Linked DNA regions of Homo sapiens: all the other regions are linked to region 3. Evidence: fine-mapped expression QTL. A gene starts in region 3. Each other region holds a variant in brackets. All regions are shown on one strand. Distances are between the middles of the regions.

Region 1 (8,055 bases), 27 kb after region 3:
TTCACATGCCAGCAGGGCCTTGGGCCTGGTCCTCAAACTCATTCTCTCCTCCTAGGTCTCTGGATCTGTGATGGGAGGGACTACCTGGAAGATTTCTGAAATGGCTTAGAGGCCTTTTCCCCATTATCTTAGGTATTAGCACTTGCCTCCCTTTTAGTCATGCTAATCTCCATGGCAAGTGGTTTCTCTGTAGCCCTCTTGAATCTATTTCCTGAAAATGCTTTTTCCTTCTGTTACTACGTGGCCAGGTTGTGACTTGTCCAAATTTTTACACTCCACTTCACTTTTAAATATAAGTTCCAACTTTAAGTCATTTATTTGCTCCCATATCTAATCATAGGTTGTTAGAAGCAGCCATGACACATCTTGAATGCTTCACTGCTTAGAAATTTCTTCCACCTGGCTGGGCGCAGTGGCTTATGCCTGTAATCCCAGCACTTTGGGAAGCCGAGGTGGGTGGATCACGAGGTCAGGAGATCGAGACCATCCTGGCTAACACGGTGAAACTCTGTCTCTACTAAAAAAATACAAAAAAAAAAAATTAGCCAGCCGTGGTGGCAGGCACCTGTAGTCCCAGCTACTCGGGAGGCTGAGACAGAAGAATGTCATGAACCCGGGAGATGGAGCTTGCAGTGAGCCGAGATTGTGCCACTGCACTCCAGCCTGCTAGAGAGCGAGACTCCGCCTTAAAAAAAAAAAAAAAAAAAAAGAAGAAAGAAATTTCTTCCACTGGATATCCTAGGTAATCATACTTAAGTTCAACCCTCCATAAATCCCCAGGACATTGACACAATGCAGCCAAGTTCTTTGCTAAGGCATAACAAGAGTGACCTTTGCTCCAGTTCCCAATAAATTCCTAATTTCCATCTGAGAACTCATCAGCTTGGCCTTTGCTATCCATAGTTCTATCAGCATTTTTGTCACAACCACTTAACAAGTCTCTAAGAAGTTCCAAACTTTCCCTCATCTTCCTGTCTTTTCTGAGACCTCCAGATTCTTCCAATCTCAGCCCGTTACCCAGCTCCAAAGCTGCTTCCACATCTTCAGATATCTTTATAGGAACACCCCAGTCTTTGGTACCAATTTTCTGTATTAGTTCATTTTGTGTTGCTATGAAGTAATATCTGAGACTGGGTAATCTATAAAGAAAGGAGGTTTATTTGCCTCATGGTCCTGCATGCTGTACAGGAAGCAGGGTGTTGGCATCTGCTTCTGGTGAAGGCCTCAGGAAGCTGCCAATCATGGCTGAACACGAAGGGAAAACCAGCATATCACATGATTAGAGAGAGAGCAAGAGGAAAAGGAAGGAGATACCACACTCTTTTAAGCAACTAGATCTTGTGTGAACTCACAGAGTGGGAGCTCACTCACTACCCCAAGAATAGCACCAAGTCATTCATGAGGGATGCACTCTTATGACCCAAACACCTCCTGATAGCCTCAACTCCAACATTAGGCATCACAATTCAACATGAGATTTGAAGAGGACAAATATCCAAACCATATCAGGTGATGTCAGAGGAGGTTTTAGTGGAGAGCCAAGACCTTTCACCATGTGATAACAAGGGCATCTCTACCTTAGTGTCTATGGAGAACACATGGTGGGGCCAAAACTTCCACCCCACCTAGAAGTATAGAGGACATGTCCATGCATTTGTCAATGTAGGCCTATGGGAAACTTGGGCTTTATCTTCAAGTGACAGTAATGAGGTAGTGCCAATGCTCTCTCTGACAGAACAGTGTCAGGAGAAACTAGCTAAAATAGAATAAGTAAGCTCTAGAGTCTCAAAACATGATATAAAAATGTTCAAGTTTCAATATGAAGAAATTACTCATTATTCCAATAACCAAGAAGATAAATTAAATTTAAAAAATAACATACCAATGCCAACAATGAGATGAAAGAGCTGTTAGAATTCTGTGATAAAAATTTTAAAGCAGTCACCATGAAAATGCTTCAATGAGCAATTGCAAATATGCTTGAAACGAATAAAAAAATAGAAACCCTCAGCAATGAAACAGAAAGTCTCAGCAAATAAATAGATGATGAAAAGAACCAAATGAAAATTTTGGAAAAAAGTACAATAACCAAAATAAAAACCCAAATAGAAGAATGGAGTGGTCAAAAAAGAGAATAAGGAAACTAAAAGAAAAATAGAAAATACTGAATCTGGGCAGGGCACAGTGGCTCACACCTGTAATCACAGCACTTTGGGAGGTGAAGGTGGGAGGATTGCTTAAGCCCAGGAGTTTGAGGTTATGGTGCAGTATGATCATGCCACTGCACTCCAGCCAGGGCAACAGAGCATGACCCCATCTCTAAAAACATAACAAATAAGTAAATAAATAAAAATTACGCAATTTGAAAAACAGCAACAAAATAGACTAAAAGAATAAAAAAGAACAGTACCTTGGGGACATGTGGGAACTTAACAAAAGCTCCAACATTCATGTCAGTGGAGTACTGAAAGAAAAGGCAAAGGAGACAAGGCTAAAAATAACTCAAAAAATGGCTAAAAAGTTCCCAAATTTGATAAACAATATAGAGAGGTGAGTGAACTCCAAAGACTCCACACCAAGGCATATAACAGGCAAACTTTTGAAAATAAATGAAAAAGAAAAAATCTTAGGCTAGGTGTAGAGGCTTGTGCCTGTAATTCCAACATTTTGGAAGGCCAAAGTGGGAGGATTTCTTGAGCCCAGGGGTTCAAGACCAACCTAGGCAACATAGTAAGACCTTGTCTCTACAAAAAATAAACAAAATTAGCTGGACATGGTGGCATGCACCTGTACTCTCAGTTACTTAGGAGGGTGAGGTGGGAGGATCACTTGAGCCTGAGAGATCAAGGCTGCAGTGAGCCAACACCATATCACTGCACTCTAGCCTGAGTGACAGAGCAAAACCCTGTCTCAAAAAAAAAAAAGAAAGAAAGAAAAGAAAAGAAAAAGAAAGAGAAAAAAAAACTGACTAAGTGAATCAAAAAAAGACCCAATTACATGCTGCCTATGAGTATCTCACTTGAAATATAAAAATACAGGGAGATTAAAATTAAAAATGTAAAAGCTATATCAACAAGCAAAATGTCTTGAGCATCCCCAAAACCTGTTGCCATGACCTTTGCTTTTTGTGTGTGTTGGGACCTTTGCTTTTGACCAGCCTGCTTTTACTTTGACTAGGCCATTTGCACCTCTTGGTAGCATTGCTTTGATTGTGCTTTGTCTTCAAGATCATACTGCTAAAGCCATGTGTCATCTCCTGTTACAGTTCTCCAAAGAAAGTATTCAGAATCTTGATCCCATTGTTTAAAATTTCCATGGAAACTCAGTTCTCATCTGCAGCTGATCTAGGTGCAATGGTTTTGGACCCATTGAGGAGAAATTTGCTCAACTTTAATTTTTTAGTCAGAAGTGATCAAAGGAAAGCAGAAGCATCTATCAAATAGAGTTCAAGACAAAGATAACTACCGGTATATAGAGGAAAATCAGGCCAGGAGCGGTGGCTCATGCATGTAATCCCAGCAACTTGGGAGGCCAAGGCGGGTGGATCATTTGTGGTCAGGAGTTCAAGACCAGCCCGGCCAACGTGATGAAATCCCCTCTCTACTAAAAATACAAAAATGAGCCTGGCGGTAGTGGTGCGCGCTTGTAATCCTAGCTACTTGGGAGGCTGAGGCAGGAAAATCACTTGATCCTGAGAGGTGGAGGTTGCAGTGAGCCGAGATCACACCACTGCACTCCAGTCCGGATGACAGAGTGAGACCCTGTCTCAAAAAAAAAGAGAGAGAGAGAGAGAGGAAAATTATAAATGATAAGGAGTCAATCCACCAAAAAGACATGGCAACCCTAAATGTGTATGCACCAAACAACAGAGCTGTGAAACAAAATCTCATAGAACTAAAAGGAGAAACAGATAAATCCACAATTATAATTGGAGACTTCAACAATTCTCTCTCAACAAATAACAGAACAACTAAAAAGAAAATCAGCAAGAATATAGAAGAACTCAGTAACATCACTAACCAATGGAAACTAATTGACATTTATAGAACACACTATTCAACAATCACGGGCTGAGCACAGTGGCTCACACCTGTAATCCCAGCACTTTGAGACACTGAGGCAAGCAGATCACTTGAGGTCAGGAGTTCGAGATCAGCCTGGCCAACATGGTGAAACCCTGTCTCTACTAAAAATACAAAAATTAGCCAGGTGTGGTGGTGCATGCCTGTAGTCCCAGCTGCTTGGGAGGCTGAGGCAGGAGAATCACTTGAGCCCGGGAGGTGGAGGTTGCAGTGAGCCAAGAGCCAAGATCATGCCACTGCACTCCAGCCTGGGCAACAGAGTGAGACTCTGTCTCAAAAAAAAAAAAGA[G/AAG]AGAGAGAGAGAGAGACTCCATCATCTCAAAAAAAAAAAATTTCAAAATACACTCTTCCAAGTGCCAGTGAAACATATCTCAAAACACATCTTGCCCTGAGTCATAAAACAAGCCTCAGTAAATGTAAAAGACATGAAATCATACAGAGTGTGTTCTGTGACCACAATGGAATCAAAGGAGAAATCAATAACATAAAGATAAAAGAAAAATATTCTAACACTTGGATGTTAACGTATCTCTAAATAATCCATGGGCCAAAGACGATGTCTCAAAGGAATAAAAAAAAATACATGGTATGAGGTAAAAAAAATTTAATTTAAAAAATAACACCAATACTAATCTCTCCCAGAAAATACAAGAGGTCTTCAAAAAGTTCATGAAAAATGCGTACTATGAAAAAATATGCATGAATTTAAATAAAGTTTGCATCATAATAAACTTGTATTAACTTGTTATAACATGTCTGAGCAGGATCTAGTTTAAGCCACAAAGAAGGATAGGACTTCCGTTTGAAAAGACTCCCGATTAGAGCAACATGAATTCACTAAAATTGAAGCAAGAACAAACATCAGATTTATGGTGAAGCTTGGGTGGAAGAATAATGAAATCATTGACACTTTATGAAAAGTTTATGAGGACAATGCCTCAAAGAAATAAGTAGTGTACAAATGAATAACTTGTTTTAAGAAGGGATAAGATGATGTTGGAGATAAAGCCTGTAGTGACAGGCTATCCATATCATTTTATAAGAAACAAATTAGTCCTGTTCATACCGTAATTGAACAGGGCCAATGATTAACAGCAGATACACTAGGAAATACCATAGACATCCCAGATGGTTCAGCTTACACAATTCTGACTAAAAAATTAAAGTTGAGCAAATTTCTGCTCAATGGGTGCCAAATTGCACCCAGATCAGCTGCAGATAAGAGCTGAGTTTCCATGGAAATTTTAAACAATGGGATCAAGATTCTGAATACTTTCTTTGGAGAATTGTAACGGGAGATGAAACATGGCTTTAGCAGTATGATCTTGAAGACAAAGCACAATCAAAGCAATGCTATCAAGAGGTGTAAATTGTCTAGTCAAAGTAAAAGCTGGCTGGTCAAAAGCAAAGGTCCCAACACACACAAAAAGCAAAGGTCATGACAACAGGTTTTGCAGATCTTAAAGGTATTTTGCTTGTTGACTTTCTGGAGGGCCAGAGAACGTTTTAAGAAAGCCAAGCTTTAGCAGAAAAATAACCAGGAAAGCTTTACTATAGAGTTCTTCTCCACCACAACAACGCTCATGTTCATTCCTCTCAACAAGGGCAATTTCACAAGAATTCTGACATGTAAAATCACTGGGCATCCACCATACAGTCCCAGTTTGGTTATTTCTTTTTTTTCTTTTTCTTTTTTTTCGAGACAGGGTCTCACTCTGTCGCCCAGGCTGGAGTGCAGTGGCACGATCTTGGCTCACCGCAACCTCCACCTCCCAGGTTCATGTGATTCTCCTGCTTCAGCCTCCTGAGTAGCTGGGATTACAGGTGTGTGCCATCTTGCCCAGGTAATTTTTATATTTTAATAGAGATGGGTTTTCACCACGTTGGCCAGGCTGGTCTCAAACTCCTGACCTCAAGTGATCCACCTGCCTCTGCTTCCCACAGTTCTGGGATTACAAGTGTGGGCCACCATGCCCTGCCCCAGTGTGATTATTTCTGACTTTTCTTTATTTCCCAATCTTAAAAAATCTTTAAAGAGCATCCATTTTCCTTCAGTTAATAATGTAAACAATTCTTCATTGACATGGTTAAATTCTTAGGACCATCAGCTCTTTAGAGACGGACTAAATGGCTGGTATCATCCCTTATAAAAATGTCTTGAGCTTGGCGGGACCAAGATGGCTAACTAGAAGCAGCAGCAGTTAGAGGCTCCAATTGAGAAGAAACAAAACAGCATGTCAATCCTGCACTGGCAATCGAGGTATCCAGGTTTTATCATCAGGACTGACTAGGCAGTTGGTGTGACCCATAAAGAGCAAGAAAAAGCAGGGTGCTGCGTCGGCCCACATGGAGAAAGGGCAAACCCCACCCCCAACCAAGGAAGGTGGTGAATGAGTATGCTATCTTGCCTGGGAAACCGTGCTTTTTCCACAGATCTGCGCAACCCACAGATCGGAAGATTCCACTCGTGAGCCCATACTACCAGGGCCTTGGGTCCCAACCACAGAGCTGCACAGACTCTCAACAGCCACTCTTGCTGGAATCTGCCTAAAGGTAATGAGTTCCCGGAGGAGAAGCCGCCATCATCACTGCAGCTGCCTGCTGTCTAAGCCATCTGAGCTTCCAGGGGGAGAGATGGCAGCCATCACTGCGGCTGTCAGCTGCCTAAGACAACTGAGCTCCCTGAGGTGGGGGCGGCCCTCATCACTGTGGTTGCTAGCTGCCTAAGAAAACTGAGCTCCCTGCGGGAGGGAAGGCAAACATTACTCCAGCTGCTAGCTAAGTACACTGCTACCTGACACTGAACTGGGGGTAGCGGGGAGGGTGGCAGCCATCACTATAGCTCTAGACCACATTTTTCCCCTCCTGGAGCCGGAGAGACAGGACAGCTTGGTTCCAAGAGGTAATCCCCACAGTGCAGTATACAGGCTGTGGCTGAAAAATGCTGAAAACTCAAAAGGCCAGAGTGCCTCTTCTCCAAATGATCACAACACTTCTCCAGCAAGTGCACAGAACTGGACAGAGGTACCATCCTGATACCAAAACCTGGCAGAGATACAACAAAAAAGGAAAACTTCAGGCCAGTATCCCTGATGAACACTGATGCAAAAATCCTCAATAAAATACTGTCAAACTGAATCCAGCAGCACATCAAAAAGTTTATCCACCATGATCAAGTCTGCTTCATCCCTGGGATGCAAGGCTGGTTCAACATACGCAAATTAATAAACATAATTCATCACATAAACGGAACTAATGACAAAAACCACAAGATTATCTCAAAAGATGCCGAAAAAGCCTTTGATAAAATTCAACATCCTTTCATGTTAAAAACAATCAATAAACTAGGTATTGATGGAACATATCTCAAAATAGTAAGAGCCATTTACGACAAACCCATAGCCAATATCATACAGAATGGGCAAAACCCAGAAGCACTTCCCTTGAAAAGCAGCACAAGACAAAGATGCCCTCTCTCACCACTCCTATTCAACATAGTATTGGAAGTTCTGGCCAGGGCAATCAGGCAAGAGAAAGAAATAACGGGTATTCAAATAGGAAAAGAGGAAGTCAAATTGCCTCTGTTTGCAGACAACATGATCCTATATCTAGAAAAACCCATTGTCTCAGCCCAAAAGCTCCTTAAGCTGATAAGCAACTTCAGCAAAGTCTCAGGACACAAAATCAATGTGCAAAAATCACAAGCATTCCTGTACACCAACAATAGACAAGCAGAGAGCCAAATCATGAATGAACTCCCATTCACAATTGCTACAAAGAGAATAAAATACCTAGGAATACAGCTAACAAAAGATGTGAAGGACCTCGTCAAGGAGAACTACAAACCACTGCTCAAGGAAATAAGATAGGACACAACAAATGGAAAAACATTCCATCCTCATGAATAGGAATAATCAATATCATGAAAATGGCCACACCGCCCAAAGTAATTTATAGAGTCAATGTTATTTCCATC
Region 2 (8,055 bases), 37 kb before region 3:
TTTTCCTGACTAAGTTCTACAAAGTTTTGTTGTGAGTTTTACTATCTTATTCCAACGTCCAAGTCGATTAATTAAATCTAGATTTTAGTGTATCTCAAGTCTAAAGGCAAAACCGTGAGTGTTTATTGTGCCATTAATGTTTTTGCATATTTATCTTTTATTTCGTATTTCTACTGATAACAGCCTAAGAGGTGCATTTAACAATTGCTTCTGTCCTTGATTACTGCAGGAGCTTCTGAGTTTGTCTTCCCGTTCAACCTTCTTTCAAAAGTCGTGATTTATTTTGCTCAAGGTAGTTAAATAGCTCCCAATTAATTCTAAAGAGTGGCCAAATTCCTTAATCACTCATGGCCCTTTAGTTTATTACTCAGAAATCAAGAGATCTTCTTACATTGGTTTTCCTGCTTTCATTCTCTGCAGACTGTGTGTTTTAACCAAAGTGGACTTTTCTACTTGTCATATTGATGCTTTCTGTGTCTTCAACTTTCCTTATGTTTTCTCTTTCCAAGAAATGTCTATCATTCTCAATATTCTCCCGGGGGGAACTTACTTATTTTAAAACCACTGAAACACACCATGCCCCTTCAAGTATTTCTTCAAAAATTCAAATAGGAAATGATTGTCTTTCAACTTCAACGTCATTCTGATTTACCTCTTGTACCTGTTACATTATCTTGCCTTGCATTGTGTGACTCATATTCTTTATTTGACCTCAAATTTTAAAGCCAGGGGCTGGGGCTCAGTAATAATTCCTGACATGATGATATGCTGTTAGAGATCTGTAAGGGTCCTATTTAATGTTTAATGAAGACTGGTTATTACAATCTTCTCTACTTGCTAAGAAAGCATTTTAGGCTGGGCGCGGTGGCTCATGCCTGTAATCCCAGCACTTTAGGAGGCCGAAGTGGGCGGATCAGGAGGTCAGGAGATCGAGACCATCCTGGCTAACATGGTGAAACCCCGACTCTACTAAAAATACAAAAAATTAGCAGGGCATGGTGGCATGCACCTGTAATCCCAGCTACTTGGGAGGCTGAGGAAGGAGAATCATTTGAACCCGGGAGGCAGAGGTTGCAGTGAGCCGAGATTGCGCCACTGCATTCCAGCCTGGGAGATAGAGCGAGACTCCGTCTCAAAAAAAAAAAAAAAAAAAGAAAGAAAGAAAAGAAAAGAAAAAAGAGAAAGCACTTTAAAAGGCTATTTACAACACTCTACATAAATGGTTTACTTAATTCATAGAACTACAACATAAATTGACTTTAAATCATCATCAAAACATTATTGTATACTTCTTTTTAAGAAAAATACTATTAATGGAAAGATCTCATACATACAAAGAACTCAAACGCCTACTCAGGCCTCTGCAGGATCTCAGGCAACTTTTAAATATGGGAAACATACAACTATCAAAGTAAGATAGTCTACACATTCCTTGGAAGGACTTTAACCTTTCCAAAAAACTGTTTTCCCACATAGGTGGTGTTAACTTGACTTTCCTAAACTCGTAATAACTTTTAGATTTTTTTCATTCCACCACACAACATTCAAAATATTGAAACATCCTAGGTTAATCTAAAAAATGACTTTACAGAAGATAGTTTTACACAAAAATAAGATTAATATGGAAGGCCATAACGACTTTCTGACATTTTAGGTTGCCTTTCTGCAATCACTAACTTCTTTTCTCTTAAGAATGGTAATAACTAAATTTTATTATGTACCTATCACTTGCCAGAGTTTATTATTAATAATTTATAACTATTAACTTACTTGATACAAATAAATCTATAAAGTAGAATTCACATTTATCATGCATACATATAATGCCAAGGAACTGAATAACAAATCCTTTACCAATGGCTACACATACAAAAATTGGTAAAGGGAGGACTTGATTTAGAGAGCTTCAGAATCCACAATACTTAATAACTAACTTCTGACACATTTCAATCCCAGAAATTCTTAATAGCTAAAAGCATCACCATAATTAGAATAGTGAAAAGTATTAATGTACAAGAAATAGGTTTAGACTTTCTCACTGTGAAAGCACAACCCCAAATTCAAATATCAGAGAGTTGAAGAAAAACAGAACTAAAATGACTTAAATGATAAATTGCCAAATACAATGCTAGGTGGTGGAAAGAATCCTCCTATTTATGATATTTTGTAAAAGTCAATTAAATGTTTAGGAGAATTCAGTAATTAAAGTAATACCTGAGAACCAGGTAGACATAGACAGGATAGGAAATATTACTTTCACAAAGGAAAACACATATTATTCAAACAGGATAATAAAGATAATCATATTTTTTAAAAGGACTTAAATGAAAACAATCATATTTTTTAAAGGACTAAAATGAAAACAATTCGCTTTTACACAATGTGTTCAAATAGTCAAATAAAATGCTAAACATGGACAGGCATTAAGAGAACTGTAAAATAAACTACAAAACAATGCTGCTTTGAGGTTACCTTCAGTTGGACAAGGGGGCTAAAATATGCCCATAAATGATTACATTATTTGTTCATAAGTGATTAAAAGATTTAAAACAATACTAATAACAAACTGTAAGAATTCAGAGTCCCAGAAATCGTTCATTCCCTTCCATCAATTTCTACCATTCTCTCCAAAGCAATATGCACGAAGTCTAATGGGTATTTAATATCCAGGCAGGTCCAACAGTCACAAGAAGCAAACGTGTAAAAAGACAAGAAGAAATAAAAGAAAGAAAATGTTGAAAGATACCAAAATAAAGTATCTTGGATTTTTCAAAGATTTATCCCATAATACTAAATATTTTTACACGAACTAATGGGCCATGATAATCCCAAATATTCTGTATAATAAGGATTTATAAATTATATGTTTGGTTTGCAAGAATGAAATTATCATGTATAGTTTTTCTGATGAAAACATTTTTCTAAGTCATATATTAAATATCACTTTAATGTGGAATATTATTGAAAATATTCCAACTCATGAACAAAGGGTTGAATGATTAGAGTTTAGAAGATACTTGCAAGAATAAAGTAATCATTTCCTAAACATAGAGGCTCAAAAAATGTTAAGTTGGCGACAATACAACTGTAAAAATCATGTAGAATAAAAAACATGTCTCCAAATGGTAAAATGGTCTAAATAATGAATTAAAAGAAGGATTACAAATCTCTTCCCTCTTGATTTTACTTTTTAACTAGTTTATAATAAAATTAGGAAGAATATGAAAACTATCAAATTTTGAAAAACACTATCATTCTGTATTTTATCACTACACTGCTTAAAACGGCAATAGTGAAACACCAAAGATATTTGTGACTACCAGACACTAAAAAGTCAGATAAGATGAATAAACCGAGATCTTAAAGTGAATAAAAGTAAATATAAAGACAACATATTTAAAACATGCATTTCAAAGTACAGCATATGGAGTAAGATTAAGAGTTCAGTGCCTAAGGACAAAAGAATAAACGCTTTGGGGGAATACTTTCACCAAAGATCAAAATGCCCTGAACGTCCTTAGAGTATTGTTCAGAGAAGACGGCTGTAAGGCAGGCCAAAATAAATATTCAGTAAAAAATGGATATCATCCAACCATAACTTGAGTTTCAAGATAGACCCAACTTGTGGAGAATGATTAATACTGTATTATGCCACTGAGAAAATTCAATTAATTATAAAAGGTTTCTAAAAACTAAACAATGTTTAAATTTTCACTATAAAATACGGTGAAAAACTAAATCTGAAACACTTTTAAAGTAACTACAATTTCCACAAATAGAATTTATGAGTTCTAAATTTAAATGGACTTACTTTGAGGCCATGATCAACATTTAAATCTTGCTCTTCGCCTACATCAACTGATCCCAGATCAGGAGGAAGGCAGGGGCTGAAGGCCATGAGGTCCGTCTTCGGTGGCCCCTCACCAGAGCACACCCTCTGCGGCTGTTGTTGCGAGTATGACCAGCTCCCCACCGCACTGGAGCACACCAGAGTGGGCTTGCCCGCCCGGCACCCGCCCTCAGTGGGCAGTGCTGAGCACCGCAGCGCAGTGTACAGCAGCAGCGTGAGCACCAGCAGGCTGGATACCGCGCAGATGGCGATGATCAGGTACACGTTGACATCCACCAGCGCCGCTTCCGGACCCAAAACGCCAGCCGACTGCCTCGATGACGCTTTTGGAGCCTGGCCGCTCTCCACCAGCGACACCAGAACCGTGGCCGTGGCGGTCAGCGCAGGTTCACCATGATCCTTCACCAGGACCAGCAGACGGTGGCGCGGAGAGTCCGCTTCGTCCAGGACACGAGTGGTGCTGATCTCGCCCGTGTACAGCCCCACGCGGAACGGGATGCGAGGGCTGCTTGCAGCTGGCTGCAGCTCATACGAAAGCCACGCGTTGTAGCCCGAGTCGGCGTCCACTGCGCGCACCTTCGCTACCACGTGGCCCGCGCCCACAGACCGCGGCACCAGCTTGCTCGCTGCGCCACCAGTGCCACCCACCCGAGGCTCCAGCAGTGCCGGCGCGTTGTCATTCTCGTCCAGCACGAACACCTGCAGCGTCACGTTGCTGCCCAGAGGCGGCACGCCCGCGTCGCGCGCGCTCACCTGGAACTGCAGCAGCTCTAGCTCCTCGTGGTCCAGCGGCTGCAGCGCGTACACCTTGCCGCTCTCCGTGTGCACCGAAATGTAGCTCGACAGCGAGCGCTCGCCCACCCGCCGCTCCACAAGCGAGTAGGACACCAGCGCGTTCTCCTGCGCGTCCGCGTCTCGCGCAGACACCGTGAAGATGTGGCAGCCCGGCGGGTTGTTCTCCTTCACGAACACCGTGTACTCGGGCTGCGCGAACGCCGGAGCATTGTCGTTCACGTCGGCCACCTCCACAGACAAGCTGGCGGTGGCCCACAGCGAAGGCGAGCCCCCGTCCCGCGCGGTTACCACCAACTCATAGGCCGACAC[T/G]CTCTCGCGGTCCAGGGCGCTGTCCAGCACCAACGAGTAGTAATTCTTGAAGGTGGACACCAGCTTGAAGGGGACATGGGGCATCAGGGAGCAGGTCACCTGCCCGTTGGCACCTGAATCGAGGTCGTTCACGCTAATTAGGGCGATGACAGTACCAAATTGAGCGTCTTCACGTACAGGCAAGGATAAGGAAGTCAGTGCTATCTCAGGGACGTTATCATTTTTATCCAAAATTCTCACTAAAACGGTGCAATGACCCGCCATGGGAGGATGGCCTTTGTCCGTGGCGTCAATGAGGATTTTGTATAAGTTTTCTTGTTCAAAATCCAAATTACCCCGAATCACTATTTCTCCCGTATTTCGATCTATGCTAAAGTGGTCAATAACCATAGTTTCAACAAGGCTATTAAAAGAATATGAAATTGCCCCATTGGCTCCTTCATCCGGATCAGAAGCATTCAGTTTGATAACTGTTGTTCCGTTGTCTGCGTTTTCGAATATTCTTACTTCGTATTCAGACTGTTCGAAAGTGGGAGCATTATCATTCACATCCAGCACTGTGACCAGCAGCTGAACAGTGCCTGTGAGCTCAGGTTTGCCCCCATCTGTGGCTGTCAGGAATAAGTGGTGCGCAGGAGCGTCCTCTCTGTCCAAGGATTTTCTTAATACGAGCTCAACCAGTTTATTCTCATCGTTCTTTGAATTCACATCTAGCATGAAGTAATCATGAGAGCTAAGCCTGTAGGTTAACACGGAGTTAGCTCCAACATCTGCATCGGACGCGCCCTCTAGCGGAAACCGAGAGTCTGGCATTCTGGATTCTGAAACAAACAGCTTTTGGTCTTTTACCCGGAACACTGGCGGGTTGTCATTAACATCCTTCACCTCCACGTCCACATGGAAAACCTGCAGCGGCCTGTCCACGATCACCTCCAGGTGGATGCTGCACTCCGCGCTCCGCCCGCACAGCTCCTCGCGGTCGATCCGAGAATTCACAAACAAAATGCCATTCTGCAGACTTACCTCCAGAAGGTCCCGGTGTCTTTTGGACGCCACCCGGAACAGGCGCGGCACCAGCTCCGCCAGCTCCAGCCCCAGGTCCTGCGCGATCCGGCCCACGAAGGTGCCGTGTTTGGCCTCCTCGGGGACGGAGTAGTGGAGCTGGCCGCTCCCCACCTTCCAGGCTGCGAGGAGCAGAAGCAAGAGTAGTAGTCGCCAGGATCCCAGCTCTCCTCGCCAGTGATAATCCATGTTAAATAGTCGTTTCCTATCAGAAAATATTATCTTAATATAAAGATGAACGACTGTACTTTCAGAGTCTTTTAATCCAATTCCGCTGCATCTCCCGTTGTTCGGCCTTTAGAGACAGATGCTGTCAGAGAAAAGACTTTGAACATTGACCAACCAGAACTTCTTGGTAGACAGCGACATCATGTGGCTTCAAAAGGTAATGATTACATGAATTACTTCCGCAATATCTGGGTTCTTCTATGCACTTTCTATTTCTTTATCATAATTTAATAGTAAATCCTTAACTTTATCAATTGCAGAGGCATTCATACTGTCTGGCTCCTTACATTAGTTTCAGCTAGGGATTTCTTCTTCATAAGGAAAGGAATTTCTTCCCAATATTTCAAATATCGTATCAATTAATAATAAATTTAAGTATGACCTGTATGTCATGGATATCAGAAATGTAAACTGTCCTCCATAGTTTCGTGTGGAAGAAATGCATTAATATTTATTTGGTCACCAGAAACACTGGTATATATTACTCTGAGGTGAGCATATAATTCTAACTTTTCTACATTTTATCTTCTTGTGTTCTTATTGTTAAATTTTTGCTTTTCTTTATTCAATAAATGTCAAATTGCCTGAACCGTTTTATTTACTAAAGTAATAAAAATGTATGTGCATATTCTTTACACTATTTCTCTATATCTCTATAGCTTGTTAAATTCAGCCTCTCACTTAAAACATTTTCCTTTATGATTTCTCTGACATGCCAAACTCTAGCAGTATTGCCATCATTGGCTTGTTAGTTCTTCATCTTTCTTCTGCTCCAAAAAGTGAGTATTTACCAGAATTATGCCTTTAAACTTTTTTCCCCAACTTTTTATTTAACGTTTCTATTTCCACGGCTTTAAACTAGCCTATTATTTGAAGTATTCTTAACTCCATATCTGCAACCCCCTATTTTCATTTTCTACCTGACATTTTTACCTGTATACCCTAACATTGCCTAGAAAATGAGTCGACCAAAGTTAAAAGAATATCTAATCAATAATCACCCAAAACCCAAATCATTAAAAAATCACAATTTTTATAGCATAGTGATTCTCCACATTTACTCATATGTATTTTTATGACTTCTTTTCCTTTGCCTACCATATTTAAAATTTGTATACATCCCATCTCTCCTTTCACGTGTGATAATTTCTGTCCTTATTAGTACAGCTTTCACTCGATTTCACTAAAATCTTCAACAAGTTTATCTTTCTATTGACTAATTGTCAAGACATTAGACTTCCATCTGGGAGATACGCTACGTGACCATGAGCCAATCTTCTCAGTGCTAAGGCTAACCACTTTCCAATAGGAGTCATATTTTACAGAAAATATGTTGTCTCCTTCTTGGCACACTCTTTGTTCAAGGTTTTTCTTCTATTACTTCATCTTTTTCTGTCAAAATTCTATTCATCTTTCAAAGTCCACCTCAAAAGTAAATTCTCCATGGATTCATCATGAATGCCTTCATAGTAGGCAATTAAGAGCTCCTCCAAATTTCTACAAAATTCTTACCAAAAACGTAGGTTAAATAGGAAAGGCAAATAAGGGTATTTTCTGTGAAATGATTTAAATTTGTCATCACATTATTTACCCAAAAAAATCTCTGTAGTTGACTCTAAATAGTAGCAAACAATTTGTAAAGAAAATAGTATTTCTCGATATCTCAGGAGTTTGAGACCAGCCTGGGCAACATGGTAAGACCCCATCTCTACAAAAAATACAAAAATTAGTTGGGCATGGTGGTGTGTGCCTATAGTCCCAGCAACTTGAGAGGCTGAGGTAGGAAGATCACTTGAGCCCAGGAGGCAGAG
Region 3 (8,055 bases):
GTTAGCTACAAAAGACAAAGATACACACATATTCTGTGACCCACAAACACAACTCTTAGGCAAAAACCTGAGAGAAATCTGTGTACATGGGCATCAAAGAAATGTACAATATATTTATGATGGCATTATTTGAAATAGACATTGAGGCACAATGCAAATTCCTGAACAGTAGAATAAATAAGGTATAGTATATTTATGAAATAGTACTAGAAACAGAAATAAATAAACTACAACTACATATAACAACATGGATAATTTCATAAACAATGAGTGATAAATACAAATAACACACAAATGCACAGACAATACATGTTGTGCAAGTCCAATTAGATAACGTTCCCAAAACAGGCCCCGAACAAACAGTTATAAAAGGCAAATGTGCGGTTACACTGGAGGAAAAATAAGGGAAGTGATTTGGCAGGTGCATGCGAGGGGCTTCAGCGATGGAGGCAACGGAGCTTTTCACTTTCATACAATTTATGGAGCTTTATTATTTCAGCCTGTGCACATTTGTTTATATGTAATAGGTTAAATAATAGTAAAATGTTTTCTAAAATGTTGATTATTACCAAAAACAAAGAGGGTGAATATAGTGAAAATTTACTAGAAATTACAGTTCTGTTAATATGCATTGAATAATGCAGCATAAAATGAAGGAAGGCAATATATATTGCTCTGATGTCCTATAATTCCAAAAGACTTTAGTTAAAATGGATATGTAAAAAGAGGTAAAATTTTAACCCAGGGAAATTTGACTCTTAGAAATAAATTTACGAAGAAGTTGATAGAGAAAAACAATACGAAAATTAAACAAAAGGATGTTATACACTAACCTTTGCAAAGGATTCCTCAGTTGTCTGCAGCTGATCTTCTCTGTCCCTAGAGTCAGGTAAACTGGGGCTGAAGGCCATGAGGTCGGTCTTGGGTGGGCCCTCACCAGAGCACACCCTCGGCCTCCTCTGCTGCGAGTATGACCAGCTCCCCACCGCACTGGAGCACACCAGCGTGGGCTTGCCCGGAGCGCACGCGCCCTCGGTGGGCAGCGCAGAGCACCGCAGCGCGGTGTACAGCAGCAGCGTGAGCACCAAAAGGCTGGACACCGCGCAGATGGCAATGATCAGGTATACGTTGACATCCACCAGCGCAGCATCGGGACCCACAGCGCCCACCAACGCCCGTGAGGAGGCCTTTGGCGCCTGTCCACTCTCCACAAGTGACACCAGCACAGTGGCCGTGGCCGTCAGCGCGGGCTCGCCGTGGTCCTTCACCAGTACCAGTAGGCGGTGGCGCGGAGCGTCCGTTTCGTCCAGGGCACGCGTTGTGCTGATCTCGCCAGTGTACAGCCCCACGCGGAACGGGATGCGCGCGCCACCAGTCCCCGGCTGCAGCTCGTACGAAAGCCACGCGTTGTAGCCCGAGTCAGCATCCACCGCGCGCACCTTTGCCACCACGTGGCCCACACCCACCGACCATGGCACCAGCTCGCTCACTGCGCCACCAGTGCCACCCGCCCGAGGCGCTAGCAGTGCTGGCGCGTTGTCGTTTTCGTCCAGCACGAACACCTGCAGCGTCACGTTGCTGCCCAGAGGTGGCACGCCGGCATCGCGAGCGGTCACCTGAAACTGCAGCAGCTCTAGCTCCTCGTGGTCCAGCGGCTGCAGCGCGTACACCTTGCCGCTCTCCGCATGCACCGAAACGTAGCTCGACAGCGCGCGCTCCCCTACCCGCCGCTCTACCAGCGAGTAGGACACCAGCGCGTTCTCCTGCGCGTCCGCGTCCCACGCAGACACAGTGAAGATGTGGCAGCCCGGCGGGTTGTTCTCCTTCACGAACACTGTGTACTCGGGCTGCGCGAACGCCGGAGCGTTGTCGTTCACATCAGCCACCTCCACAGAAACACTGGCCGTGGCCCACAGCGAAGGCGAGCCCCCGTCTCGCGCGGTCACCACCAGCTCATAGGCTGACACGCTCTCGCGGTCCAGGGCACTGTCCAGCACCAACGAGTAGTAATTCTTGAAGGTGGACACCAGCTTGAAGGGGACGTGGGACGTCAAGGAGCAGGTGACCAGCCCATTGACACCCATGTCTTTGTCGGACACGCTGATCAGGGCGATGACTGTACCCAGTGGAGCGTCCTCTCTAATTGGAAGTGATAAAGACTTGAATTCCAAATCTGGGACATTATCGTTGTTGTCTTCTACTTCCACAATAACTCTACAATGGCCAGAAAGTGGGAGCTGTCCCTTATCAATGCCCTCTACAATAATTTCATAGGATTTGCTTTCTTCAAAGTCAATATATCCCTTTACAATAATTTGTCCAGTAATTGGATCTATGTGAAACTTGGATTTCACATTTGGCGAAATATCATTTGAGAATGAATAAACAATGTCCCCATTCAATCCTTCGTCTAAATCTGAGGCGTTAAGTTTAATTACCAATGTTCCATTAGGAACATTTTCTAGTAATCTCACCTTATAAATGGTTCTGTCAAAAGCTGGGGCATTGTCATTGGCATCCAGTACTGTGATGAGTAACTGAACGGTGCCAGTCAACTCGGGTTTGCCTCCATCAGTGGCTGTGAGCACTAAAAAAATCTCCGGAGCTTCTTCTCTGTCTAAAGATTTCCGTAATATAAGCCCAAGACCTTTTACCAGCTCGTCATCAGGTGGTTTTTCCAGAGAAAAGTATTCATTTGGGCTCAGTCTGTAAGTGAGCAGGGCGTTCTCCCCGATATCTGCATCCGAGGCGCCCTCTAGTGGAAACCGAGAGTCAAGCGGCCTGGATTCCGCGATGGACAGGTTCTTTTGTGTTGCTGGGAACACCGGCGGGTTATCGTTAATGTCCCTCACCTCCACGTCCACATGGAAAACCTGCAGCGGCCTGTCTACGATCACCTCCAGGTGGATGCTGCACTCCGCGCTCCGCCGGCACAGCTCCTCCCGGTCGATCCGAGAATTCACAAACAAAATGCCATTCTGCAGATTTACCTCCAGAAGGCCTCCGCGGCCCTTGGACGCCACCCGGAACAGGCGCGGCACCAGCTCCGCCAGCTCCAGTCCCAGGTCCTGCGCGATGCGGCCCACGAAGGTGCCGTGTTTGGCCTCCTCGGAGACCGAGTAGTGGAGCTGACCGTTCCCTGCCTCCCAGGCTGCGAGGAGAAGAAGTAAGAGCAGCAGACGCCGGGATTCCTGGCCGCTTCCCCAGGAAAACTCCATCTTTAGTGCACAGTATTTTGTTCTGATTAAATATCGTTTCTCAAAGTCAAGGGAAATCTTTTAATCGGTCAGTCAAGTGCAGCTGCATCCTCCATATTTCAGACTCCAAAGAGTGTATATGGTTCCTTCCAGTAAGAATAGAAGGAATTTTCCCTTCTTCCTCCTTCTCTCATGTATTTTGTGGTAAAGAGCGACATCATGTGGCTCCAAACCGTAAGTAGCAATTGTGGAAACCCCCACACACTCTACTGTAAACTACTTGGTTTTATTTATTATTTCAGTCGTTTCGGAGAATAGGAATACATTTTGTACTACTGTGGTACACATTGTACCACTGATTGATTGAGTGTGGTCCTTAGTTTCGCCATAGGGGCAACTTTTACTTCAGTAGAAATAATTTTTTCAACACAGGTTTTAAGTATTACAGAGACCTAACTATACACTTTGTAAACATGTAACTGTAAACTGTTGATTAGAAAAATTCATTACAGATTCCTGTGTTCCCAAGAATTCCAGGGTTTTTTTTTATTAATGATAACACCCTCTTCACCCTAGTATTTCTGGTGTTGTTGACTTGAGGGGACTGGTCTCTAGGGAACTTCTGGTGCCAAGAACAAGCTATTGACAGGGAAATTTGCAGATGTTTTATAAAAGGATCAAAGACCATCAGCATTTAATTAGATGTCTTCCTTGAGTCATGTCAGGGCTGAAAGTGCAAGGAAGCAGGAAGTTATAGCAAATAGCTTGCATGGAAAAGCATTCCAAATAATTTTATTCATTGGAACTCATTTGCTCCCATGAGAAACGCTGGTATTCTCATTTTGACTCTTACAGTTTATAAGTACTTGCTTGTTCTCCAGTATGTAATGTGCCTAAGCTTCTATTTTCTCCTATAGTGCTTATATATTTTAGCCAAACTGAATATTTCCTGCTTCCAATAGCTTTTTTTAATAAACAAGCATGTTCATTTTGTCCTGTCTATAAGTAATCCACATCATTTCTAAACTCTTCTAAAGCCAATTTACCCCATTTTATAACCACTTAAAACTTCCCTGACCCATGAAGAATGTCATGATCAAACCAATTGAACAGGTATTTTTTCTTCTTTTACAAACTGCAGCACCAGGGTGGAATCGCGTGGGCCATTTATTACATTAATTTATCTCTTATAAGCATTTGAGTATGTGTGTCCTTTTTTGGAATATATATTTTAAAGGGAATAGTTGTATCTTAATTGTTTAATAGCTCAGAGGGACTTACCTAATATTTCCTAAATATTTACCCTGCAGAAAATGTTTGCTTCCTTCCATTGCCTAATAAAATGCATTAATTTAAGGTGATCGCATATCTAGTTGGGAAAATGTGGTGTTTCAATAGCCTCTATGATTTTCTAAAGATACAAAAAAAGTCTCTAGACATTTCCCCAATTAAGATGTATTTCAAGTTCAATGTTGAAAACTTGGGTTTTAGCTTAATTTTTATTCTAATTCTTGGTAATCATGATCTTTGAATCATCCTGGGTATTAATGGGGAATGAAGACTTCCCAATAAATAAACCACAATACATTTTCTTACATAAAGAAATTTAATATATAAAGACATAATGGTAGCCATTTAAAAACTTTCCTTGCCTCCTATATCCATAAAGTTATTTTCATCCTGTTTGTCTAAACAAAAAATCAATCTAGTGAAAATAGCTTTACGCTCCCTCTCTATTGAAGAACTACACTCACACAAACACACACACACAAAAACCAAAACAACAACAAAAAACCCACCAAATTTCTGAATCAAACAGAAACCAGAGTACTTTCACTATGTGGGGACCCAAACTATATTTTTACAAAATGATCATTGACATCAAGCACATTGGAAAAAAGGAGGAAGAATTCCATTTTCACCCATTTCATTTGTAATATTTTCATTTACCAGGTATTTTAATGTACAGATGGGGAATGCAGCAGAATAGAAAACAATGTTTATTTGGTAGCTATTCAATATTTATTTGGCATAGCATCAGTACATCTGTGAAGTGAAAATTCCAAAGTCTTCAAAATGTCTTTGCCAAGAGTCTTGTTAGACAATAGTTTCAAGAGGCAAGCTGGATTTGAAGATTGAAGTTCCATATCTGGGAAGACAAGTACTTTGGCTGACTCTATTATATTCAAGAAGCTGATAACAGAACTAAATTTTTAAAATACTGACCTGAGATGGACACACTATGGCTACTACTTCATGGACAAGGGAGCAACAAAGGATAGTGCCAAAAAAGGAAATAAAGAAAATGGAAGTGAGGGGAAGGAGAGGAGTCAAGAAAAATATCTATTTTACGTGTTAGACCTCCCACACTGTCAATGAGTATTAACCAGGTTTCAGTTGGTTACTATTTCTCTCCAGTGGTAGGGAAACTTAAATGGGAGTCCAACTAATTGCTAGAGGAGATAACCAAATATGTAGGGGTAGTGATTAGAAAAAAGTCTACCTTCAATTTCATTTGGTTCTGGTTATTTGGAGTTTTCTACTTATTGCATGGCACACATTAATAGGCAGGATGCTATTCAGAGAAGTTAACCAGTAATAACATTATAACATTGGCTTATCAAACTTATTTCATATTAGCATCCTTAGTATGGTATGCAAAAGACACTAATGAATAAAAAGTTTTGCTAGTAGGGATAGTTTTAAAATTAGATACCATAATTATTTTCAAGATATTGTTCAGATTGAAAATTATTTTTAACAAGATTTAAAACATTCTTTTAAAATGAATATATAAATATACTATACAACTATTAAATTTTCACTTCATATTGATATTTTAGTTATTAGTAATAAATTTTAACATATAATACAGTAGTATTATTAAAGTAGTATTAAATAAAGTAGTGATAAACTAAAGATGAACAAAGATGCAATTCTAAATGCAATTGTTATTCTCGATTTTTTTCCCAACTGGGAAATCAAGAAACAATAAACGGTATTGCCAAATTAGAGCACAAGGCCTAAAATGAATCATATTCAAGTAAAAAATAAGGATTGAGACTCCAAACAAGTGAATAAGAGAATAAAAGAGGTTCCATAAAAGACAACAGGTGTAATGATCTAATTTTTGAAACTGAAGGTGGAAAAGCATAATCAATAGGGAGTTATAAGCATTAGGTGAACTCATAAAATGAGCAAGTAACATTTGTACTAACAGGTAGTAGGAAGTCCAAATGAAAAGTGGCAAAAGATATTGAAGAAGCATTGTATAGGGATAAGTATAAAACAAGTCGAAGTCAGATTCTCTAAATAATGCAATTCATCTAAGAAAAAATATTTGTCTTATACCCAGGCATTTAGCAATAAAATAATTCTACTACTGCACCTAATAACAAAACAAAATTACAAGTGTGGATATCATAACTTACTGCTGATTTGGTTCAAAAATTAGCAACAAAAATCTTACCGTTTTAACCACAAAACCACAAAACTGGAAAAGTCTAATTATGAATCACATAATTCATACTTAACTATTAATGTATTTCCAGAGGAGTGGAAACATTGAGGAATGAAAAACAAAGACATTTTGGAAAGAATAAATAAAAATTACTCACTTTGGCTGAGAGATCAACGTCCACATCCTGTTTCTCCTCTCTATCCCGGCTAATTGGACAAGGAGGAAGGCTAGGGCTAAAAGCCATGAGGTCGGTCTTGGGCAACCCCTCTCCAGAGCACACCCTCTGCTGCCTCTGCTGCGAGTATGACCAGCTCCCCACCGCGCTGGAGCACACCAGCGTGGGCTTGCCCGGCCCACAGTCGCCTTCGGTTGGCGGCGCGGAGCACCGCAGAGCAGTATATAGCAGCAGTGTGAGCACCAACAGACTGGACACCGCGCAGATGGCGACGATCAAGTACACGTTGACATCCACCAGTGCAGCTTCCGGGCCCGTGGCGCCAGCGGACGCCTGGGACGAGGCCTTGGGTGCCTGGCCACTCTCCACCAGCGACACCAGCACAGTGGCCGTGGCGGTCAATGAGGGTTCACCGTGGTCCTTCACCAGCACCAGTAGGCGATGGCGCGGGGCGTCCACCTCGTCCAGGGCACGGGTCGTGCTGATCTCTCCCGTGTACAGCCCCACGCGAAACGGGATGCGCGCACCGCCGGTCCCAGGCTGCAGCTCATACGAAAGCCACGCGTTGTAGCCTGAGTCTGCATCCACTGCGCGCACCTTCGCTACCACGTGGCCCGCACCCACTGACCGCGGCACCAGCTCGCTCACTGCGCCACCGATGCCACCCACCCGAGGCATCAGCAGTGCCGGCGCGTTGTCGTTCTCGTCCAGCACGAACACCTGCAGCGTCACGTTGCTGCCCAGAGGCGGCACGCCCGCATCGCGCGCACTCACCTGGAACTGCAGCAGCTCTAGCTCCTCGTGGTCCAGCGGCTGCAGCGCGTACACCTTGCCGCTCTCCGCGTGTACCGACACGTAGCTCGACAGCGCGCGCTCCCCCACCCGCCGTTCCACCAGCGAGTAGGACACCAGGGCGTTCTCCTGCGCGTCCGCGTCCCGCGCAGACACCGTGAAGATGTGGCAGCCCGGCGGGTTGTTCTCCTTCACGAACACCGTGTACTCGGACTGCGAGAATGCCGGCGCATTGTCGTTCACGTCGGCCACCTCCACGGACACGCTGGCCGTGGCCCACAGTGAAGGCGAGCCCCCGTCCCGAGCAGTCACCACCAGCTCATAGGCCGACACGCTCTCGCGGTCCAGAGGGCTGTCCAGCACCAATGAGTAGTAATTCTTGAAGGTGGACACCAGCTTGAAGGGGACGTGGGGCGTCAGCGAGCAGGTGA
Region 4 (8,055 bases), 220 kb before region 3:
AACAACTGAAGCAGGCATACAGTGACTTCAGATAATGAAATTATTGAATACAATATAAAAAGATTATATTTAATATATTTAAAGAAATAAAAGATGAGTTTGAAAATAAGCAGAGGGAAAACATCATGAGGAATGAGCAAGCATATTTGGATGAAGAGCACATAAAACTACAAATACAAAAATGTAATAAATAAAAGTTTAAAATTCAGTTAGTAGGTTTAAGAACAAATCAGACATGAATGAAAAAGAATAATAGACTAGAAGACAGGCAGACTGTAGGAAAGACAGAAAAAAGATAGAGATTATAAAAAGAGTTTAAAAGACATAGAAAATGGAGTGAAATGATAAACATAGGTATAATTGCAGTCTCTGAAGGATAAAAGAGGAGTAGAAGCAACATTTAAAGAGATAATTAATTAGAATTTTTCATAATACCAAATCACAAATTCAGAAACCAAATGAATCTCATATAAGATAAAAACAAATAATCACATACATATAGCATAGTATAATTGCAGGACAGTGAAAATGAGAAAGATTATCTTAAAATAGATATAGAAGAGAGATTTCTTAAAGTGGTGACAGACTTCAGCACCATAGGAAAGGTAAATTTTTTTAAAAAATTTAAAAAATAGGATGGACGCTGTGGCTCATGCCTGTAATCCCAACATTTTGGGAGGCCAAGGTGGGTGGATCGCTTGAGGTCACGAGTTCAAGACCAGCCTGGCCAACATGGTGAAACCCTGTCTCTACCAAAAATACAAAGATTAGCCAGGTGTGGTGGCCAGTGCCTGTAATCCCAGCTACTTGGAAGGCTAAGGCAGGAGAATCGTTTGAGCCTGGGAGGTGAAGGTTGCAGTGAGCAGAGAGATTGCACCACTGAACTCCAGCCTGGGTGACAGAGTGAGACTTTGTCTCAAAAATAAATAAATAAATAAATAGTAAATAAAGTAGTGACAGACTGAGAATGAACTCAGCAGCAAAAGAGGAACGTGAAGACAATGGAATGATATTGTCAATGTTCTGATATAAAATAAAGTTAATCTAGAATTCAAAGCCTAGCATAAACATGGAGAAACCCCGTCTCTACTAAAAATACAAAATTAGCCGGCCGTGGTGGTGCATGCCTGTAATTCCAGTTATTTGGGAGGCTGAGGCAGGAAAATCGCCTGAACCCGGGAGGCGGAGATTCCCGTGGGCGGAGATTGCCGTGAGCCGAGATCGCGCCATCGCACTCCAGCCGGGGCAATAAGAGCCAAACTCCATCTCAAAAAAAACCTCAAAAGCAAATATGAAATAAAGACATTTTCAGACCCCAAAAAACGAGTTTGCCACCAACAGACCATACACTAAAGCAATTCTAAAAATTACACTTCAGGCAGTATCTCCTTTTTAAGGCTGAATAATATCCCATGGCATATATTTGTATCACCATTTCTTTGTTTGTTCATCAGCCAATGGACAATTGAGTTGTTTCCATACTTTGGCTCTGTGAGTAATGCTGCAATGAACATGGGAGTGCAGATATCTCTATGAGGTTATGATTTTATTTTCTTTAGGTATACATCCAGGAGAAGAATTGCTGGGTCATATGGTAGTTCTATTTTTAATTTTTTGAGGAATATCCATACCATTTTCTTTAATGGCTATACCAATTTATATTCCCACCAGCAGTGTACAAGTGTCCCTTTTTCTCTAAATTCTTACCAACACTTGCTATCTCTTGTCTATTTGATAATAGCCATCCTAAGAAGGAGACACTGCCATTTACAACAACATGGATGAAACTATGGGATATTATACTAAGTGAAATAAGCCAGACACAGAAGGAGAAATACTGCATGATCTCACTTATATGGAGAATCTAGAAAAAAATCAAATACAGGCCGGGCACGGTGGCTCACACCTCTAATCCCAGCACTTTGGGAGGCCAAGGCGGGCGGATCATCTGAGGTGGGGAGTTCAAGACCAGCCTGGCCAACATAGTGAAACCCCCTCTCTACTAAAAAACTACAAAAATTAGCCAGGCATGGTTGCGGGCGCCTATAATCTCAGCTACTTGGGAGGCTGAGGCAGGAGAATTACTTGAACCTGGGAAGCTGAGGTTGCAGTGAGCTGAGATCACGCCACTGCACTCCAGCCTGGGCGACAGAGTGAGACTCTGTCTTAAATAAATAAATAAATGAAACATAAATAAAAAAGAAAATGCCATCATGATTATGTAGGAGAATGTCGTATTCTTAGGAAGTGTATGCTGCTTTATTTAGCAGTGATGTGTCATGTCTAAAACATACTTTGAAATGATACACCAAAAATTACACAGAGAGGAAGGAAGAGAGTGAAGGACAGAAAGGGAGACAGGGAAGGAAAGGTTAAGGGAGAGAGAAAGAGAGAAGTAAATGTGGCCAATGTTAAATGGTGAATCTTGATGAAAGGAGTATAGAGGTTTATTTTACTATTCTGTTGACTTTTCTATAGGTTTGAACTTTTTAAAATAAATAAAATTGAGCATTGCAATGATCTTTTCAGGCCAAGTACTAATTTCTAAAATGAAGAATAGTGGTTTCAAATGAAGTCATTTGAACCTACAGCCAAGTAGCTATGAGTACTAATTGTTTAAATATAATTATCTTAAAACTTGGGCCGGTTGCAGTGGCTCACCCCTGTAATCCCAGCAATTTAGGAGGCTCAGGCAGGTGGATCACTTGAGGCCAGGAGTTCAAGACCAGCTTGGCCAACATGGTGAAACCTCATCTCTACTAAAAATACGAAAATAAGCCGGACATGGTGGCGTGCACCCGTAATCCCAGCTACCTGGGAGGCTGAGGCATAAGAATCACTTGAACCCGAGAGGTAGAAGTTGCAGTAAGCCAAGATCACACCACTGCACTCCAGCCTGGGCAACAGAGCAAGACTCTGTCTCAAAAATATAATATAATATAATATAATATAATATAATATAATATAATATAACATAATATAATATAATATAATGTAATAATTTTTAAACTATAAAACAGAAATTAGAGGAGAAATTGGAGATAGTCAGTATAGGGAACACTTTCAAGGAATTTTTTGTATAAAGAAGAGAGAAATGTGCAGTAGCTGGAAGGAAAAACGAGGTCAATAAATAGTTACTTTAAGATGTGAGAAATAACAACATGCTTGTATGGTGATGGGAAAGATCCAGTAGGAAAGAGAAAATTGATAATACAGTGGTGGTAGAAAGCAATGTCCTTGAGTACATGACACAGGGAGTTCATCTAGTAGTCACAGAACATAACATACAGTACAAGAGAACAAAGGCAGGTCAGTAGGTCAATGAGATAAGACTTATGGGCAGCTCCTCTGATCACTTCATTTATCAAATTTATTTGAAGTTAGATGCTCTACTGATGGAGGAGTGGGAGGAGTGCTGAAAGTTGGAAAGACATCAGAATGTAGGAATTGGTCAAGGTAGGATGGATGCAGACGAGAGAGTAAATGGGCTAGGAAAATACTATATAATTGCCAGACAACGTTAAGGGCCACTTGAGATTTGTAATCACAAATATAAAATAAGAACAGCTAGCAATATTGTGATGTTTTTCTCCTGCTACATTAACATATGTGAATACAAGCCTGATGTGGGCAAAGTTTTAGGTTTACAAGTCTTTGAATTTATAAATCTAGTTTTTGATTTATGAAGCTTCGGATTTTTATAAGCAAGTATATTAAAGTGAGGGAGGATCATGGATTTTAAGGTATATAAAATGCAGTGATTATAATGATTGACCCCAGACTTTTCACTGGATAAAAAGAATTAGGACATGAAGGTGGTAGGGATGA[C/T]GAAAAGATGGTAGGACTAATAGATTTTATGTATTGGAATGGTTGGCATTATTTTCGGGTCTTAGAGGGAGTAAGCTGGGAAAATTGTAGGGGGCAATTAGAAAGTTTGATGCTTGAAATTGATACTTAGAAATTAGGAAAGTGTTGCAGTCACTGATAACATAAAGATATTTGACCTTAGATGGGAGTAGGTAGCTGAGGTCAGTAGAGCACTGGGTAATTCAAGGAGAGAAGGTCAAGGAATGGAGAAGGTAGGCTGTTAGAAGAAACATCTATGTGGATATTGAAATCACCAAGTATTATGTTTAGAATAGTACTAGAGAAGATATTGAGCCAGCAGGTAAAATCATCAAGAAATGACAGTGAGTGACATGGGATCAGGAGATGACTGCTACAAGGAGAGGTAGTGGGTGTTAAAATTTGACCGCATGAGATTCTAAGCTGAATGTTGTTAGGCAGAAGGGAGATAGGGAGATCTGGAAGTGGCAAGGTGGGGGGCAAGGTAGGGTGATACAGAAGTGGCAAGTGGTAGGATGATCTGGAAGGAGCAGGGAAGATAATTTCTTACTTCTAGGCCCAGTGGGATTAAAGGCTAAGGAAAAATCACAGCTACATTTTGAGAAGAATAATGGAAATAATCTCCTTAGGGAGAACCAGTGTTCGGTTTAAACAAAGACAGCAAATTTTCAGAAAAGAGGCTGCAAACATAGGGAATTTTGCTAATGACTGACCACAGGGCATAATACAAAGGCTTCAGGAGTTAAGGAAAGATAGAAATAGCGTAAAAAAAATCTACAGAACAACATGGGATTTACTCTCTGAGTGAAAGGAGATGGTCGGGGAGTTCTGAACTTTTGGAAACTGGCATAAACCACGACCTTAATGTTGATGGTCACATAGTGATGGTAAGGCTATAAGTTGGGGGTGAAGGATTTGGATCGTGTCACAAATATACTGAATTCTGGGGCTCTCGCTTAGCTAAAACTGATGTTTTCCTTTAAGCCCAGGGCCACATAGAGACTGTGTTTGACCTGTGCCAATGCAGATATGGAGACCAGAGACAAGGGCATTTGCTGTCTGGTGTGTTTCTTTCCATCTGTCCTGGATATTATCCATAAATGGAGGAATCAAGTTTCTGGCTTTGTACGCTTTTTGAAAACAAATCCATTCCTGAAGCCCTTGCTTCTCAGATGATCAGAATATTGGGATGATAGTTGTGCTGCTGATGCTGCTAGCTCTCACATGGGGCAGTGGCCTGAGAAAACCAAAGGGCGATAAGCATGACTAAAATTTAGCTCTGAGCTGAAGAATATTCATGTTTTCCTGTGGCTAGGATGGGTACTCTTGAAATATGGAAAGTTCAGTTAGAACCTCCCAAATGAATTTTTTTTTTAAGTTTAAAAATTCGCTACTTTTTATCACCAAGATCAGAAACACAATGGCCTAATCAGTAACTGTGGACATTTTGAAACAGCCTAATATTTAAGAGGAAATTAAAAGTAAGCCTTGCTACTATCAATGTTAAAAATCACAAATAGACACACACATATTGAGTCACTGTAATAATTCTCTGGTCCTAGTTCACTGAGTCTCTGCAGATTCAATTTGGCATCAAATAACAGCCCATTCTTCTCTGCCACATTGGTCATTTGGAACTGATGAGGAGACAGATAGCACTTTAGCTGCACAGAAGAAGAAAGAAGTGCTCTAAGGTGACATTTTGTTTTGAAAGAAGTCTGGAGATGTAAGTTTGTCTACCTGTTTTTATAAACAACACTTACCAAAATTGGAGACTTTCACCATAATATCTTTTCTTAAACCAACTTAATTTATTAAGGGTTAAGATACTTGAATTTGCCTTTGGTTATGTCCGTAACACCTAAAACTCATCAAATTATTCTTACCTACAATTTCCTCATCTATGCAAGTGAAAAATAAAACTGCCTGAAAGCATTAAAAGGGACTTCCGAGTCATTGCTGATTCGAAACCAGGGCGCTTCAACTTTAACCTTCAAGATAAGCATGTTCACATCTTCAATTCCAGGCGTTGGCTAACATGCAAGACAAGCAAACTGCTCTCAGAAGAGACCTCACTTATGCAAAGAAGGCAGCCAGAGGCAGATGCCAAATTCAAAGTGGGACCTTGTAAGTAATGATTACAAAATGGATTAGGTTCCTAGAAGGACATGATATATGGACCTAGAGGGATGAACAAGCTTTTGTTAAATAACATGCTAAGATGATGACAGGAATTTAGTTCACCTTGATACCAATTCACCTAAAGTCAATTCTCCTGATGCCAATTTACCCTAATTAATCATCTAAAATTATCATTTTCTAGAGCAGTGGTTCTCAATCCTAGCTATGCATCGAGTGATTCTAACCTGGGGAGTTTTTCAAAACAATGCCCAGGCCACAACCCCAGAGATTCTGATTTATTTGGCTTGTAGTAGAGCCCAGGCATTGTCAGATAAAGTGTAAAACATCAGTTAGATGTAAATTTTAGAGAAAACAAATAATATTTTCATATAAGTATGTCCCAAATATTGTATAGGAGATATTGCATGAGACATACTTAAACTAAAAAGTTATTTGCTATTTATTTGAAATTTAAATTTAACTGGACATCTTATGTTTTCGTTTGTTAAATCTGGCAACTGTATCTGTAATTCTAGGTTTAGCCAGGACTAATAACCACTGCTCTAGTGTATATAGGTCTTATAAACTGGACTGGGTTTATTTAATGTTTTCCAAATAATTTTTCTTTTTTTTGAGACAGGGTCTTACTCTCTCACTCAGGCTGGAGTGCAGTGGCGCGATCTTGGCTTACTGCAACCTCTGCCTCCCAGGTTCACACGATTCTTGTGCCTCAGCCTCCCGAGTAGCTGGGATTACAGGTGCAGGCCACCACGCCCAGCTAATTTATGTATTTTCAGTAGAGAGGGTTTTTCCCATGTTTCCCAGGCTGGTCCTGAACTCCTGGCCTCAATTGATCCACCCGCCTTGGCCTCTCAAAGTGCTGGGATTATAGGCATGAGCCACCGCACACAGGAAATTTTGTTTTTTGTTTCTTTAAAGTATACTTTTCCCATTTCTAGGCAGTTGAATTCATTTTTAGACTGTTAGTTTCTAAAGGACTGTCAAACGTGTTTTATTTTTATATTTCTAATAAAGATTTCTAATATAAACATAATATATTAGATAGGTATGTAATAAATATTTATAATATATAATATATTTTGATTTATCTTATTTAACCCTTTTGAGCATTTACTTCTTTTTGGCCATTTGCTGTTATTTTATATTTCTTTGTGCTTTTTCTTATTAATTTGTAGGAATTACTTATATGTATAGAAATTAGTCCTCTTCTATGATATAAATAACAATATATTTTGTCTTTTGACTTAGTTCATGGTGATTTTTTAATGCAATTTTTAAAATTATATATGCAAAATAAATATTTTCTCTTCTATAACTTCTTAGTATTCTGTTATTCTTATAAAATCTTTCCCCACTTTGAGATTTTTTTTTTCGGTAAATTAACCTTTTTTTAAATTTATTTTTTATTATTATTATACTTTAAGTTTTAGGGTACATGTGCACAATGTGCAGGTTAGTTACATATGTATACATGTGCCATGCTGGTGTGCTGCACCCATTAACTCGTCATTTAGCATTAGGTATATCTCCTAATGCTATCCCTCCCCCGTCCCCCCACCCCAGAACAGTTCCCAGAGTGTGATGTTCCCCTTCTTGTGTCCATGTGTTCTCATTGTTCAATTCCCACCTATGAGTGAGAACGTGCGGTGTTTGTTTTTTTGTCCTTGCGATAGTTTACTGAGAATGATGATTTCCAATTTCATCCATGTCCCTACAAAGGACATGAACTCATCATTTTTTATGGCTGCATAGTATTCCATGGTGTATATGTGCCACATTTTAAAATTCACCCATTTTGTTGCAGAGGCTATAACTCCAATATTCTGCCCTCTTTAGATACAGAATGCTTATTTCTAATGGGTCACATCCTTGCATCAGGTTGTGACCATGTGAGCATGTAATTTTTGTTGTCTTCTTTTGGCCAGTGAGAAATAAACAGAAATGTGGGGTGGGAATTCTGGGAAACCTTAAAAGACTTCCTTCTCTTGTTCCTGCTCCTGAAACGGCTGGATCTAGCAGCCATATTGAACTATGAGAGACCTTGCCAATGTTCCAGGCTAAGGGGGC

Alleles and levels. Alleles are on the strand shown, and positions count from the first base shown. SD is a standard deviation of normalised expression in the study named. Not every link is listed here.
In carriers of allele G in region 1, the expression in iPS cells of the gene that starts at base 3,338 in region 3 tends to be lower than with AAG alone (large effect, 0.81 SD a copy in PhLiPS).
As copies of G replace T in region 2, the expression in iPS cells of the gene that starts at base 3,338 in region 3 goes up (large effect, 0.80 SD a copy in iPSCORE).

Evidence for each region. PIP is the estimated chance that this variant, and not a neighbour inherited with it, causes the effect. A credible set is the group of variants that fine-mapping cannot tell apart.
Region 1: its variant is the best candidate, but not a certain one, in a credible set for the expression of PCDHA4 in iPS cells (PhLiPS, PIP 0.67).
Region 2: its variant is the best candidate, but not a certain one, in a credible set for the expression of PCDHA4 in iPS cells (iPSCORE, PIP 0.55).
Region 4: its variant is the best candidate, but not a certain one, in a credible set for the expression of PCDHA4 in lung (TOPMed, PIP 0.57).

What each region holds. Positions count from the first base shown.
Region 1 is chr5:140,774,970-140,783,024 of GRCh38, reverse strand. No RefSeq gene overlaps it. Among named protein-coding and RNA genes, the nearest start is that of PCDHA1, 7.1 kb to the left of the region's middle. The variant G/AAG (reference allele first, on the strand shown) is at 4,372.
Region 2 is chr5:140,839,472-140,847,526 of GRCh38, reverse strand. All of the region lies in intron 1 of PCDHA1 (protocadherin alpha 1), which reads right to left. The region is part of intron 1 of PCDHA2 (protocadherin alpha 2); the gene reads right to left. The region is part of intron 1 of PCDHA3 (protocadherin alpha 3); the gene reads right to left. The region is part of intron 1 of PCDHA4 (protocadherin alpha 4); the gene reads right to left. It also overlaps PCDHA5, PCDHA6, PCDHA7, PCDHA8 and PCDHA@. The variant T/G (reference allele first, on the strand shown) is at 4,955.
Region 3 is chr5:140,802,351-140,810,405 of GRCh38, reverse strand. It overlaps PCDHA4 (protocadherin alpha 4), which reads right to left and starts at 3,338. Exons shown (of 4, transcript NM_018907.4): 1 at 834-3,338. The coding sequence starts at 3,218. All of the region lies in intron 1 of PCDHA1 (protocadherin alpha 1), which reads right to left. All of the region lies in intron 1 of PCDHA2 (protocadherin alpha 2), which reads right to left. It overlaps PCDHA3 (protocadherin alpha 3), which reads right to left. Exons shown (of 4, transcript NM_018906.3): 1 at 6,815-8,055. It also overlaps PCDHA@.
Region 4 is chr5:141,024,362-141,032,416 of GRCh38, reverse strand. It overlaps LOC124901090 (a long non-coding RNA gene), which reads left to right and starts at 5,873. Exons shown (of 2, transcript XR_007058970.1): 1 at 5,873-5,973. The variant C/T (reference allele first, on the strand shown) is at 3,829.